4 linked regions of the Homo sapiens genome follow. The protein of the gene in region 3 purifies or fractionates together with the protein of the main gene of each other region. This does not show direct contact. Each region holds a gene or a part of one and is shown on either strand. Other genes may lie near its edges.

Region 1 (3,500 bases), on a different chromosome or scaffold from region 3:
CTCCCAGGTTCAAGCAATCCTCTTGCCTCAGCCTCCCAAGTAGCTGGGATTACAGGCATACGCCACCAAACCCGGCTAATTTTGTATTTTTAGCAGAGACGGGGGTTTTGCCATGTTGGTCAGGCTGGTCTTGAACTCCTGACCTCAGGTGATCCACCCGTCTTGGCCTCCCAAAGTGTTGGGATTACAGGCATGAGCCACCGCGCCCGGCCCACTCTGTCTGCTTTCTAAGTGGACTAACTGCCTGCCCCTCTGCTTGGCACACTCGGATCCCACATCTTCCCATGTTCCCAAACCCCCTTCTGCGCTGCTCGTTCTGGATTGCAGTGAGGCCCTTTTTTCCAGCCCCATTGTTCTTTCTCCTTCGTCATGGCTAGCGTCTCTGGCATATTGGGCCCGGAGGGTTTGCTGGCCTTGTTGTTGTATCATCTCTCCTGGGTCAGTCTTTGTCCCTTCTTCCAAGTCCTGCATTTTGGGGTTCCCAGTACAGTTCCTGACATGGAGGAGGCTTCAGCATTTGTTGAAAAAATAATAAGGATGTCGCCCGGGCTGGAGTGCAGTGGTGCAATCTCAGCTTACTGCAGCCTCTGCCTCCCAGGTTCGAGCAATTCTCCTGCCTCAGCCTCCCAAAGTGCTGGGATTACAGGCGGAGCCACCGCGCCCGGCCAAACTCCCTTTTTCAGTGCACAACCAAAAATCAGAAAGCCACTGTAAAACCCAGTGAACATTTAGCATGTTGTTTAACAACTTTTCACAAGCTGACCCTGACTTTCCGGAAGTGAAATGAATATGGCAGAGTTTATCTGAAGATCCACAGTCTAGAAACGGAACTACTGCTCTTTTGAGGGGCGCCATCTCAGTGGCATCACTGGAAGGTCCAGATTGCCTGCCACACTGGTAATCAATTATGGGGGGGTCAGGTGCCAACAGATGTCTGGCTTTAAGGGATTTAAGTCCATGCTGAAAGGTGGAAAGGGAGAAGAGGACATAGAAACAAATTTGTCTTTTCAGAGCACAAGGCTTTTGTGTGCTGAGGTGGCCATGTGTGTCAAAGTCAGGGAGCCCCTCTTCCTGGGAGCCGAGAGGAAGTCTCTCAAAACTAGAAGGGAAAGGTGCTTTCCCCACATCAATCCAGCTTCGGAGACATTCTATTCATGACATATGCTCCTTTCCCCAGAACAACAATGAAGCGTTCTGTGTGCTAACAACATAGCTTAGAAAACAAAAATTCTGCGTTTTTATAAAACTTGATAAAAAATAGTATTTCAAACTGTACAGTCACCAGAAGTACACAGTTATCCAAAATGCACACGCTTCCCTCAGCATCTCCAGCAGGTGCCTGGTGTGTTCAGGCATCTCCACTTCCCATAGAGTCATTCCCCTCCTCGCCAGTGTCAGCTTTTTCCTTTTTCCCTTGGGTACCTTCTCTCCCTTCTTTGCAGTGGCCTTTTTAGGCCTGGGCTCTGGCTTTGGAGGGAGGAGCAGGTTTAGCAGACAGCCTCACAGATCTTCTCTGTGGTTCGTCTTTCACCTTGGCCTCATCTCCCTTAGCATCCCCTTCAGCCTTTCTCTTGGGCATGGTGGCAACGAAAGCAGCCGGACGTAGGCACTGGGAGCGGGATGCAGTGGCGGTGCACGGACTGCGCTCAGTCGGGGGTCATTCTCGCTTCCTCTTCTTCATACTGCTCCAAGACTTATTCTTTTGCCCCAGATAAAATGTTGGTTTAGATTAATCTTTACTCCCTCCAAATGTTTCTAGCTGTTGCATCATGAGTGCTTTGCTTTTCTGCTTTTTTTTTTTTTTTTTCTCCAGACAAGGTCTCTGTTGTCCAGGCTGAAGTGCAGTGGCACAGTTTCAGCTCACACTGCAGCCATGACCTTCCCTGGCTCAGGTGATCCTCCCACTGGGACTACAGGCACTTGTCACCATGTCCAGCTAATTATTTTTTTGAGATAGAATCTCGCTGTGTCACCCAGACTGGAGTGCAGTGGCGCGATCACGGCTCACTGCAAGCTCTGCCTCCCAGGTTCAAGTGATTCTTCTGCCTCAGCCTCCTGAGTAGCTGGGATTATAGTTGTGCGCCACCATGCCTGGCTAATTTTTGTATTTTTAGTAGAGACAGGGTTTCACCATATTGGCCGGGCTGGTCTCGAAGAACTCTTTTTTTTTTTTTTTTTTAATGAGACGGAATCTTGCTCTGTCACCCAGGCTGGAGTGCAGTGGCGCGATCTCGGCTCACTGCAAGCTCTGCCTCCCAGGTTCACGCCATTCTCCTGCCTCAGCCTCCCGAGTAGCTGGGACTACAGGCACCCGCCACCACGCCCGGCTAATTTTTTGTGTTTTTAGTAGAGACGGGGTTTCACTGTGTTAGCCAGGATGGTCTCGATCTCCTGACCTCGTGATCTGCCCACCTCGGCCTCCCAAAGTGCTGGGATTACAGGCGTGAGCCACCGCGCCCAGCTAATTCTTGTATTTTTTGTAGAGACAGGATTTTGTCATGTTGCCTAGGCTGTTCTTGAACTCTGGTGCTCAAGTGATCTGCTTTCCTCAGCCCTCCTAAAGTGCTAGGATTACAGGCATGTGCCACCGCGCCCGGCATGAAGTACTTTTGTTTTTCTTTTTTCTCCTTTTTAACATAGGAGCTTTTCTTAAAACTTCAGAACATTTTTATTTTTCAGAAACAAGAGTTGAAATAAAAGAATCTGTTCGTGGCCAAGATATTTTCATTATACAGACAATACCCAGGTAAGAGGACTGACTACTTTATCTCTTTTCTGTAAAAACCTTAACAATATAATTGATTATCTTTTCATATGAACAACAACTTAGTGTTTTTAAAAGTTATATATTCAGGCCGGGCGTGTGGCTCACGCCTGTTATGCCAACACTTTGGGAGGCCGAGGTGGGCGGATCACGAGGTCAGGAGTTCGAGACCAGCCTGACCAATATGTTGAAACCCTGTCTCTGTTAAAAATACAGAAATTGCTGGCTGGGCACGATGGCTCACGCCTGTAATCCCAGCACTTTGGGAGGCCGAGGCGGGCGGATCACGAGGTCAGGAGATCGAGACCATCCTGGCTAACATGGTGAAACCCCGTCTCCACTAAAAAATACAAAAAAATTAGCCGGGCGTGGTGGCGGGCACCTATAGTCCCAGCTACTTAGGAGGCTGAGATAGGAGAAAGGCGTGAACCCAGGAGGCAGAGCTTGCAGTGAGCCGAGATCGCGCCACTGCACTCCAGCCTGGGCTACAGAGCAAGACTCCATCTCAAAAAAAAACAAAATAAATGAATAAAAAACAAAAGTTAGCTGGGCATGGTGGCATGCGCCTGTAGTCCAGCTGTTTGAGAGGCTAAGGCAGGAGAAGTGCTTGAACCCAGGAGGCAGAGGTGAGCTGAGATCGCGCCACTGCACTCTAGCCTGGGCGACAGAGTGAGACTGTCTCACCAAAGAAAAAAAAAAGTTATACATTCGTTTGCATGTTAAACTAAATGCTTCC
Region 2 (3,500 bases), on a different chromosome or scaffold from region 3:
CAAAGGTAGCAACCATAGGACAGCCTGGGTTTTTTTTTGTATTGTGTTTGTTTGTTTGTTTGTTTGTTTGTTTGTTTGACAAAGGCATTGGAGATGGGTGGAAAAGAACTTTAATTTGACTATACAAATGACTTGCTTTTGAGATTGCTGAGTTGGAATCTAGAAATTATTTCCCTCAGCTCTTGTTTTTATCTTTTGTAGAACATAATCTTACCCAGCCCAGGGTGTTTTTAATTATAATTGTTTATTGAAGATATGGCTGATAGACCTTTTAGCTGAGTTTTATTAGTGTTTACAGCAGAGATAATGCTTAGCATAGCTTCTTGAAGGAGACTGTGCTTCAGGAGGAGCTACCAGGATCAGAGGCTGTAACTTTAAAAGGCAAAACAAAGTAAATCCTGGATGTCTGCAGATTTCTCTGGCTTTCCTGTAGTTAAAAGCTCTGGGGCATTTTGATCCTTGAGCAGAGGGCTCTCTGGCTGTGTGCAGCCTGAATGTTGGCACAGAGCTCCCTTGGCTGCTGCAGGCAAGTCTCTGAGGCCACAAGGGGGAAGAAGGGTTGTAGGGTGTCCTAGGTGCTTGATGGCCCCTGTCCAGGAGCTGGAGGGAACTTTGCTTATAGAGTTGCTACAAACAAGATGATTTTGTCCTGAGAGTTCCTCTGCAGTCTTGCCCCATTTCCTTTTCTTTCATCAGGAAGGATTTGGGCACGTGATTAAGAAATGCATTTTGCTTCCTTGCTGGCAAGAGCCAAACCAACTACTGGGCCAGAAATGCTTTTTAGAAACATCACTCTTAAATCATTCTTTTGATCAGAGACTTGCTCAGAGAACTTTCTTCCTTTTACAAACTAGAATGGTAAAGCGTTCAAGTGTTCTAGAAGCTCATATAAAGGATAAGGCTAGAGGTGTTTGAAAGCTATTTGAATTTTCTGACCAGCAGGCAGCCTGTATTTTGAGGCCAAATGACACTTTGTCCAATTGAAATATTTTTAAACATGTCTTGTCAAGGTCTGGGTAACAGTAGTTCGTGTCTTTGCTGAGGGAGTCATTGTCTCCTCCTGCTAAGTTAGGGACAGGACAGCAGCAGACAGGTACAACTCTACCCTCTAGTTTCTTTTTTTGCAGGGGACCTGATGGGGTGCAGCTCGAGAATGCTAACAGCAGTGTTGCTACTGTGACTGGGCTGCAAGTGGGGACCTATGTGTTCACCTTGACTGTCAAAGATGAGAGGAACCTGCAAAGCCAGAGCTCTGTGAATGTCATTGTCAAAGAAGGTACCTCTCTGCCTCCAGTTTGTGTAGCAGCCTCTTAGGGTCAGATAGCTGAAGAATTTATCCTGTCATGTTTGCCTGCAGAAATTGATTAGAGATAGCAAGAGGTGGGTAAGAGGGTTGGGGTGAGGGCAATTGTTATTTTCTTTTCTAAAACAGCCTTTAATTGGACTGTAAGGTGAATTTTAACTTCCCTCCCTCCTCCTGCTTACATCTTCCCTTCCCTCTCATCCCCTTACTTTCTTTTCAGTCCTCCCTCCTTCCCTCCTTACTTTATTTCTCAGTTGAATAGGGAAAGAATTAAGGGTTCTATTCTTTGCATTTTTATTTTGCCCCTCTGCATTGCTGAGACCTGGGCCGTGACTCCTGTTAGCTACAGTGACACCTGCTGTCAGGCTTGAGAATGACGGCCGCACTACAGCTGACTATGCTTGCCCTGAGCCTTTGAGCTGAGGCCAGCCAGAGGCCTTGCTCTAGTTTACAGGCACAGTGACCAGTGAGAGCTGTGGGAGAGGGCCTTAAGTTGAGGGCCTTAAGTTGATAGCAGGAAAAACCATCAGATATGCAGACCTCCAGACATAAGATACCAAGCTGAGTAAATACTGCACAGACATCTGAATATACAGAGCTTCACGTGGGGCTCCGAATAAGAGAGGTAGCTCTTTGTTTTCTCTTGTGAAGTTCCAAGGAAGGGGTCCAAAAAGATATTCAGAGAATAACATTTTAAGATATTTTGAAGGAGAATTTGCAAGATCAGCTAGGTGAAACCTAAACTCCAAGGTTTTAAGCCAGTTTGGGCCGTTATTTCTGATCATCACATACCTCCAAAGCAGAGAAATGGATTCCATTTGGGAAGGCTGCTGGGAGAATATGAGAGGAAAGCACACTCGTCCCCTCTGTTGTACAGTGTTAGGAGAACATTTCTCTGGGTAGGACTGGAACCTCAGGACTGCAGCGCTGGTAGCTTTCATCTACACTGTTGGTTGGTGGCAGGGACAGGCACTTAAAAAGGTTCTCCAGTTAAGGTACTCTTGATGTTTTAATTTCCCCATAAGCATCATGAAGAAACATTTCTTCTTTTCCAGAATGTCACATTATGTCAATGATTTCTTTTTGATTAGAAATAAACAAACCACCTATAGCCAAGATAACTGGGAATGTGGTGATTACCCTACCCACGAGCACAGCAGAGCTGGATGGCTCTAAGTCCTCAGATGACAAGGGAATAGTCAGCTACCTCTGGACTCGAGATGAGGGGAGCCCAGCAGCAGGGGTAAGTGTGCTAGGAGCTGGAGAGCTACACAGGAGTGGGGAGGAGGAGGAGCCACGCGTTCCAGTATATGCTTTAATCAAGTGGTCCCTTATATCAAACCCAGATTGTTCTCTGAAATCCAGGGAGGTGAAGTGACTTGCTTAGGGTCATTCTGTAAGCTAGTATAGCACAGAATGGGTTTCCCTTCCCTGATCCTAGCAGTTGTAGGCTGCAATGCTGTTCCGTATCAGGAACTGCCCAAGGTTGAAACAGTTCAGCCCTGAAGGGCCTAGTTATGGTGAAAGCAGCAACTGACTCCAGGAAAGGAATGGCATTTTGTTCTGTAACATAGCCATGTTGTTCAACCCTACAGGAGGTGTTAAATCACTCTGACCATCACCCTATCCTTTTTCTTTCAAACCTGGTTGAGGGAACCTACACTTTTCACCTGAAAGTGACCGATGCAAAGGGTGAGAGTGACACAGACCGGACCACTGTGGAGGTGAAACCTGGTGAGTTCATTTAGTGATGAGGCTGAGTAGAATTGCTGAATCAGCCAATCAAGGCCTCTATCCTGAGATCCCCTTCCCCGAGCATGGACAGAGCCAGATGGCATGTCCAGCTTTAAAAATAATCGAGAAACCCCAAGCTGAAAAATCCATAGAGACCGTCTGTTCCAATAATACCTCCTACCCATGCAGAAATACAGACCTCCCCCTATTCATCTCAGATGGAGAAACAAACTCAGAGAGGGCAGGACTTGCTCAGTGTCACACAGCAGTTGTGTCAGAGCCAGGCCTTTGTGCTCGTAGTCCAGCACTTTCTCCTCTCCTCGTGACTGATGAGAGAGGGCTCAGAGTGCTTGGGAATCTGAGCATGGGAATAGCTTGAGTCATGATGTCTCATCAGCATCCAGATGCAGAAAACAATTTATTTTTATAAGTTGAGCCTCAGGCCTTGTCTGATAATCCAGGG
Region 3 (3,934 bases):
AGACACAGTTAGAAGGTGTGCTTCACTGCTTTATTCTGCATATGCCCCAATGAATTCCAGGAGGTCACAGCAGCAGAGTACAACTTTTAAGATTAGAAGAGCTTGCTCTTTAAAGAGTTATTTTTAGCTGGAAGGGAGAGTGTAGACCTCAAAGTGCTGGTAGGTATGTTCTACAGTGGGGATCTAATTTGGAGGTCTTTGGAGATCTGATTCCAGGGGAAGGTCTCAGTGGGGCTCCTCTTGCCTCTGCTGCAGGACTGGGTGGCTCTGCTGATTGTCACTGCCTTGTTTGAGGGGTGGTCTCCATCATCCAGGGGAATTCAGCCTGGGACCTATTGTCTAGAGTGTACATTGTATCTAGGCCCAGACCTGCCAGAGTGTCCACAGCCACACTTGAGGAAAGGACATTCCAGACTCATTAAATATCACAATTCGATTTTGATGTCACTAACTCAGGTTCCTGAGATAAATTTCCATACAATTCCTACAGATTGATATGGATATGTGCATCACCCCAGGAGAGGCTCTGGTGAAGGGCAGGCTTGGAGATGCAATGGGCAAGGTTGGGGAAGAGATACCCTCTTCCGGGTTCCGATTTGTGCCCTGAATTTGGGCAAGCTCAAGGAGCACTGGCAACCCCACCAGCACCAGAAGAAGCTGGTCCTGGCTGTCTCCCGAGACTGGTGAAACTGCTCTGGTGGTGGTGCACTGGAAGGGTGGAGGAAAAAAAACAAAAAACAAAACAGGGTTTGAGGGGGAATGGCAGGGACACGGTAGAGGCACAGAGATACAGAGACCTAGAGTCAGAAATCCTGAGTGAGACACACAGAAAGGCAGAAAAAGGCAGAAAGATGCTGAGGGACAGAGACGCAGACCACAAGAATGACAGAAGAAGGAGACAGAGAGAGAGAGGGAGTGAGAAAGATACTGAGAAATAGGGACAGTAAGGGAGAGACTGAGAAAGACAGAGACAGCCAGAGTCGGAGCACAGAGGCCGAGTCTGGGAGACGCTGGTTGAGTGGGAGGTGTCAGTAGCGAGGGAGGTGGTGACGGCTCGAAGCATCCCCCGTCCTCCTCCTCCCCCTTCACGCTCAGCCCAGCCGGCGGCGAGGAGTCCAGAGGCCAAGGTCGCCCAGTCCTCTCGGCTGTCTCGAGCTGAATGGCTGGCAGTCTGCGGCTCCCCCGCCTCCGGCCCGGCAGCCACAGGTCGGAGGCGCCCGGCGTCGGCGCTCGAGGCCGGCAGGGGCGCCCTGCACCCTCCCGCGCCCTTCCCCGCCCTACGCGACTCCCGGCTGCTCTTCCCGCCACTCCCCTGGGCTTTGCGATCTTCCCTACGCCCCCCGGGAAGGGGGCGCTGCGGCCACCGAAGACACCGCGGGAGCCACTTGTCCCTGTGGGCCCAGCCCGCGAGAGCCTGAGAGCCGGATCTGTTTACACAGGGTACTAATTAGTCTTTGAGGAATCATTCACCCACGTGCCAAAGTAATTGTCCGTGTCAGGAAGGTAGGCGTGCCAAGCCGCGGCTCTGCGGAGAAACCACGACCACCGCGGCCGCCGGAAACCCAAAGCGCTCCAGAGCGTCCCCGGGTGGCCGGGCAGCACCAGGGACAGCGCCCGGGACTCCACTGGGGACCGGCTCCTGGGCTTCCCAGCGTCGCGGGTAGAGGTACAGCTGCTCCGTGTGCCGCAGGCTCCAGATTCTCGCCACCCCACCCCTCCCTCAGAAACTCGGACTGCTCTCGTCTGCCGTGTGGTTCTCTTTTCTTCCGAAAGGCCAGTGTCTTATCTCTCCACTTCAAGTCCAGAGGACTTGCTCAGTCTCCTCCCCTTAAGTCATTTCCACCATCCTCAGGCAGCTGTGGGAAGCCGAGAGTCCTGGACTGTTCGTCCGGGTGCCAGCGCTGGCAGTCCCAGTCCGTCCGGTGCAGCAGCCCGGCGCATTCCCCTCTCTCCCTCCCTCTTGCTCTCCCTCCCTTTCTGTCTTCCTCTCTTTCCTCCTCTACTGCTCCCTCCCTCTCTTGCCTCTTAAGTTTCCTGCACCGTGAATCCAACTGTGCCAAGCCTTGGCTCCCGCGAACCAATCCTGAGCGCGACCCGGGCACTGGGACGGCGACTCCGCCAAAGCTGGACGAGGCAGCCGGACCCGTCTGCGCTCGAGCATGGAGACGGAGCGCCTGGGAGGGCACGTCCGGGGCGCTGGAGACGCCAGGCCCGAGTAGCTTCTCCATGGAGCCTGCCCAGAGCGGTCCCTTCTCGCAGGATTCGCCCCAAGTCCTGTGCGGTACGTACCCTTTGCCTCCGCTGTTCCCGGAGGGTACACCTGGGAGCGGGGTGGTGGGCACGAGGAAGGGACGGCAGGGAGGGGCGCTGGTTAGGAAAGAGAACAAGCCTGGCAGGTGACCCTCACAGCTCGGAGGAGGCTTCTTCTCTAGAAGTTAGCGACCGGCTGTACCCTTTGGCTCGAAAAAAGTAGTGCTAGAGATGTGACTGTGAGCATTCGTGGGTATCTCTGTGTGCGCCAGGGGTTCGAATGGGTAAACTGATCCCTGCTTTCCTGTATGCAAATTGCATTCTCTTTCCCCACCCCCACTTCACCGAACGTGTTGAGGTACCTAGCACCTAATCGCGGTCAGTTCTACCTACCTCTTCCTCTCACCGCGCCCCCCTCGCTCAATCTCTCTCTCTCCCTTTATCTTTCCCCTCTATCTCTCTCTGCTGGTGTGTACGTGTGTGAGCACTGCCAGGGCTGGCGAAGAACCAGCCGCCGCCTTTAGTCCGAGCCGCCGGGCCACCCAACACAAGGGCAGGTCTCGCTGCCGGAGAAGCCTGGGCTCCGAACCAGCCTGCACGCGGCTCAGTGTGCTCCGCCGCCTGGGAACTCGCACCCGAGGAGCGCAGGGGGCAAGGAGCCCCTCACCCTCCCTCTCGTCCGCCCGCCCGCCTCCCCAGCTGCGGACCGCGCGCTTGCTGGTCTCAGGCGCTGGATTTACTCGCTTTTCAATTTTTCGTACCCTCCCTCCCTTTTTTTTTTGGTCCCCCACTCCCCGCTACGACCCCCTTTCCCCGCTTGATTGTCAAGCCTAACCTTGCCCGCGTAGTCATGGGATGTCTAATTTTATTTGCATCTAGGCTGCTGAGAGCGCTCCTTGCTCTGTAAAGTGGATGTCAGGTGGATCTATGTTTCTGAAGGAACAAAGACTCAAAGAAGGCACCGCCAAGGAAGTTTGAGACGCGGGAGAATGCAGGCTGCGTGCTGGTACGTGCTTTTCCTCCTGCAGCCCACCGTCTACTTGGTAAGTCTTGGAAGGTTCGGGGCTTTCGCATTTTTACCCCGGCCGGGAGGCAAGGAAACTGGGGACACGCGGGAGAAGGGTTACGCCGCCAGTTCAGTGAGAGCAGCTTCCTAGCAGCTGTGTTGGAGCAACTTTGGCAAGCTGGTCTCTGGATTCCTGCGGATTTTCCGGGGTTCCCACCCCATTTTCTGCTCCAATCCCCCAGTCTCCTGCGCGTGATTCTTGAAAGGGGCTAGGGCGCCCCAGACACCCTAAACCCAAGGAGGTAGTGAGATGGGGTGCTTTATGTGATAGAGGGCCAACGAGAAGAAGTGGAAGGCAGGAACTCTCAGTAGCTCATGCACAGAGTTTAAACGAAGGGAAGTGGGGGTGTAGTTGGGTGGTGGAAAGAACAAATCTGCCCAGGTCTGTGAGTTTAAAAGTGAATCTACCCACCCACTTCCCCGATTTGGAGATGAGACACATAAAGAAGCGCAGTTAACTTTCTTTGACTTGTAAGGGTTCCGACAGGATAAGTTTAACTATCAGGGGTACTGCAAGCAATCGGAGTTAGGACAGAGATACTCCAGCAAACATGTCCACCTTCCTCTCGTCTCGACCTCCCCTTTTCATCAAATAACTAAATCCCATCTCCAGTGACT
Region 4 (3,500 bases), on a different chromosome or scaffold from region 3:
CAGAGCGAGACTCCTTCTCAAAAAAAAAAAAAAAAAAAAAAAAAAAGAAAGTTCACAAATTTGTGTTGGGCCGCATTCAAAGCCATCCTGGGCCGCATGCATCCTGGACAAGCTTGTTCTGAGTTCTTGCCCAAGGAAATGGAAATCATTTGAAGAGAGCCTGTCAGAGCAGCAACTTTAGATTGTCTGTTTTGCTTGAGACTGAGTGAAATAGGGTACTTGATCAGATTAGAGACCCATAATGGCAAGGATAACATGAAGAGGTCACTGAGTACCAGGAGTATGCGTTGATCTCTTAAAACCTGGCTGCGCCTGGTAGCTCACACCTGTAATCTCAGCACTTAGGGAAGCTCGTTTGAGGTCAAGAGTTGGAGGCTGCGGTGAGCTATGATGGCGACACTACACTCTAGCCTGGGCGACAGAGCAAGACCCCATCTCAACAACAGCAACAAAAATTAGCCAGATGTGGTGGTGCATACCTATAGTCCCAGCTACCAGGGAGGCTGAGGTGGCAGGATCCCTTGAGCCTAGGAGTCAGAAGCTGTAGTGAGCTATAATGGCTCCAGCCTGGGGGACAGAGTGAGACCCTATTTCTTAAAAAAAAAAAAAAAAAAGACAAAGCAAAACAACCTTTTTATTGTGGAGAATTTCCAATATACTAAAGCAGATAGAATAGCATAATGAACTCCCATGTGCCTGTCACCCTCAATAACCATCAACACATGGCTGATTCTGCCTCATCCCACATACATCAATTTCTGGTTCTTATTTTTTATTATTTTTAAAATTAGAAATGAGTCCTCTTATATTTTTATTGTCTTACTCCATGCTACATTTTCCACCATTCTTCTGGCTTTCCCAGTCTTCTCACAGTCCATCTCTTTTGACTTTTCCCTATATTCCTTGCCTTTTTATTTATTTATTATTATTATTTTTTTTTTTTGAGACAGAGTTTTGCTCTGGCACCCAGGCTGGAAAGCAATGGCGCGATCTCAGCTTACAGCAACCTCCGCCTCCCGGTTCAAGCGATCTCCTGCCTCAACCTCCCAAGTAGCTGGGATTATAGGCATGCGCCACCACGCCTGGCTAATTTTTGTATTTTTAGTAGAGATGGGGTTTTGCCATATTGATCAGGCTAGTCTTGAACTCCTAACCTCAGGTGATCCACCTGCCTCGGCCTCCCAAAGTGCTGGGATTACAGGCGTGAGCCACCGCTCCTGGCTATTTATTATTTTTGTTTATTTTTTTAAAGACCTGTCAGCAGGAAATACTCCTTGCCTTTTAAGAACAACTTTATTGAGGTATAATTTACATACCATAAGATCACCCATTTTAACTGTATAATGCAATGATTGTTAGTAAGTTTACCGAGTTGTACAGCTATGACCACAATCTAGCCACAGAACGTTTCTGTCACCCCATAAGATCCCTTGTGTTGGTTTAGAATCAATTCCCATTCCCACCACTAGTCCCAGGCAGCCACTAATCTACTTTCTGTCTCTATAAACCTACCCTTTCTGGATGTTTAATGTAAGTGGAATCACAGGATGAGTAGGCTTTTTTTCTTTTTTTTTTTTTAGACGGAGTCTCGGACTGTTGCCTAGGCTGGAGCGCAATGGCGTTATCTCGGCTCACTGCAACCTCTACCTCCCAGGTTCAGGCGATTCTCCTGCCTCAGCCTCCCGAGTAGCTGAGATTACAGGCACCTGCCACCACGCTCAGCTAATTTTTGTATTTTTAGTAGAGACAGGGTTTTGCCATGGCGGCAAGGCTTGTCTCGAACTCCTGGCCTCAAGCAGTCCGCCCGCCTCGGCCTCCCAAAGTTCTGGGATCACAGGTGTGAGCCACTGCGCCCGGCCGATAGGTAGGCTTTTGTGCCCATCTTTCTTTCTTTCTTTTTTGAGCTTCGTTCATTTTGTGCCATGTGTCAGTAATTCATTCCTTTTTACTGTTGAATGGTCTTCCAGCGTGTGGATATATCTTCTTTTGCTTAGCAGTTCACCAGTCGATGGATGTTTGGGTTGTTTCCACTGTTTGGCCATTATGAATGATGGTGCCATAAACGTTCACATTGCAAGGCTTTGTGGGGCCATATGTTTTCATTTCTCTTGGATGATATCCAGGAGTGGAGTAGAATTGCTGGGTCATATGATAGATTTATGTTTAACTTTTTAAGAAACTGCCAAACTATTTTCCAAAGTGGCTCTACCATTTTACATCCCACTAGCAATTTATGAGAGTTCTCTTTCTTCACAATGTTATCAGCATTTGTCATTGTCTTCCTATATTATTTTAAAGCATATTGGCTGGGTGTGGTAGCTCATGCCTGTAATGGCCTTTGGGAGGCCAAGGCAGGTGGATCACCTGAGGTCAGGAGTTCGAGACCAGCCTAGCCAACATGGTAAAACCCTGTCTCTACTAAAAATACAAAAATTAGCCGAGTGCGGTGGCGGGCGCCTGCAATCCAAGCTACTGGGGAGGCTGAGGCAGGAGAATCACTGTAACGCAGGAGGTGGAGGTTGCTATGAGCTGAGATTGTGCCACTGCACTCAAGCCTGTGCGATAGAGTGAGACTCCCATCTCAAAAAAAAATAAATAAATAAAGCAAATCAAAGGCATTGCATCATTTCATTCTTAAATATTTTGATATTACCTGTAAAAAATAAGAGCTCTTTTAAGAACATGGCTACAATGCTATTATAACAAAAAAATCCTTAGTATCATATGTCAGATCAGATTCAAATTTTCATTGGTCATAAATGGATTGAAAAAGTTTTGAAAAATCAGGATCTAAGTCACATCCTCATACTGTGATCAGTTAATACGTCTTTTTTTTTTTTTTTTTTTTTTTGAGATGGAGTTTGTTCTTGTTGCCCAAGCTGGAATGCCATGGTATAATCTCGGCTCACTGCAACCTCTGCCTCCCGGGTTCAAGTGATTCTCCTGCCTCGACCTCCTGAGTAGTTGGGATTACAGGCACCTGCCACCACACCTGGCCAATTTTTTGTATTTTTAGTAGAGACGGAGTTTCACCATATTGGTCAGTCTGGTCTCGAACTCCTGACCTCAGGTGATTTACCCGCCTTGGCCTCCCAAAGTGATAGGATTACAGGCATGAGCCACCAGGCCCAGCGTGATCAGTAAATAAGTTTTATTTCGGGGGGAGGTTGGGGGGCGCACGGAGTCTCATCCTGTCCCCCAGGCTGGAGTGCAGTGGCGCGATCTCGGCTCATTGCAACCTCCGCCTCCCAGGTTCAAGCAATTCTCCTGCCTCAGCCTCCTGAGTAGCTGGGATTACAGGCACCCACCACTACGCCCAGCTAATTTTTGTATTTTTATTAGAGATGGGGTTTTGCCCTGTTGACCGGGCTGGTCTCAAACTCCTGACCTCAGATGTTCTGCCCACTTTGGCCTCCCGAAGTGCTGGGATTACAGGTGTGAGGCACCGCGCCCAGCCTATCCATTTCTTATTAATGGAATAAAAATGATAATCCGAGTTT

Evidence for each region. The genes of interacting proteins can lie anywhere in the genome.
Region 1: the proteins of NXPH1 (region 3) and PRPSAP1 purify together in Homo sapiens (affinity purification with mass spectrometry; one large-scale study listed by BioGRID and IntAct). This does not show direct contact.
Region 2: the proteins of NXPH1 (region 3) and KIAA0319L purify together in Homo sapiens (affinity purification with mass spectrometry; one large-scale study listed by BioGRID and IntAct). This does not show direct contact.
Region 4: the proteins of NXPH1 (region 3) and GPR107 purify together in Homo sapiens (affinity purification with mass spectrometry; one large-scale study listed by BioGRID and IntAct). This does not show direct contact.

What each region holds. Positions count from the first base shown.
Region 1 is NC_000017.11:76,343,917-76,347,416, reverse strand, and holds part of PRPSAP1 (phosphoribosyl pyrophosphate synthase-associated protein 1), read left to right. Parts: intron 1-1,135; exon of another isoform or gene 1,136-1,688; intron 1,689-2,679; coding exon 2,680-2,746; intron 2,747-3,500. UniProt on the Homo sapiens protein: Seems to play a negative regulatory role in 5-phosphoribose 1-diphosphate synthesis.
Region 2 is NC_000001.11:35,449,404-35,452,903, reverse strand, and holds part of KIAA0319L (dyslexia-associated protein KIAA0319-like protein), read left to right. Parts: intron 1-1,112; coding exon of another isoform or gene 1,113-1,127; coding exon 1,128-1,276; intron 1,277-2,394; coding exon 2,395-2,546; intron 2,547-2,898; coding exon 2,899-3,037; intron 3,038-3,500.
Region 3 is NC_000007.14:8,432,475-8,436,408, forward strand, and holds the start of NXPH1 (neurexophilin-1 precursor), read left to right. Parts: upstream 1-1,134; 5' UTR 1,135-2,281; intron 2,282-3,129; 5' UTR 3,130-3,239; coding exon 3,240-3,293; intron 3,294-3,934. UniProt on the Homo sapiens protein: May be signaling molecules that resemble neuropeptides and that act by binding to alpha-neurexins and possibly other receptors.
Region 4 is NC_000009.12:130,056,906-130,060,405, forward strand, and holds part of GPR107 (protein GPR107 isoform 3 precursor), read left to right. Parts: intron 1-3,500. UniProt on the Homo sapiens protein: Has been proposed to act as a receptor for neuronostatin, a peptide derived from the somatostatin/SST precursor.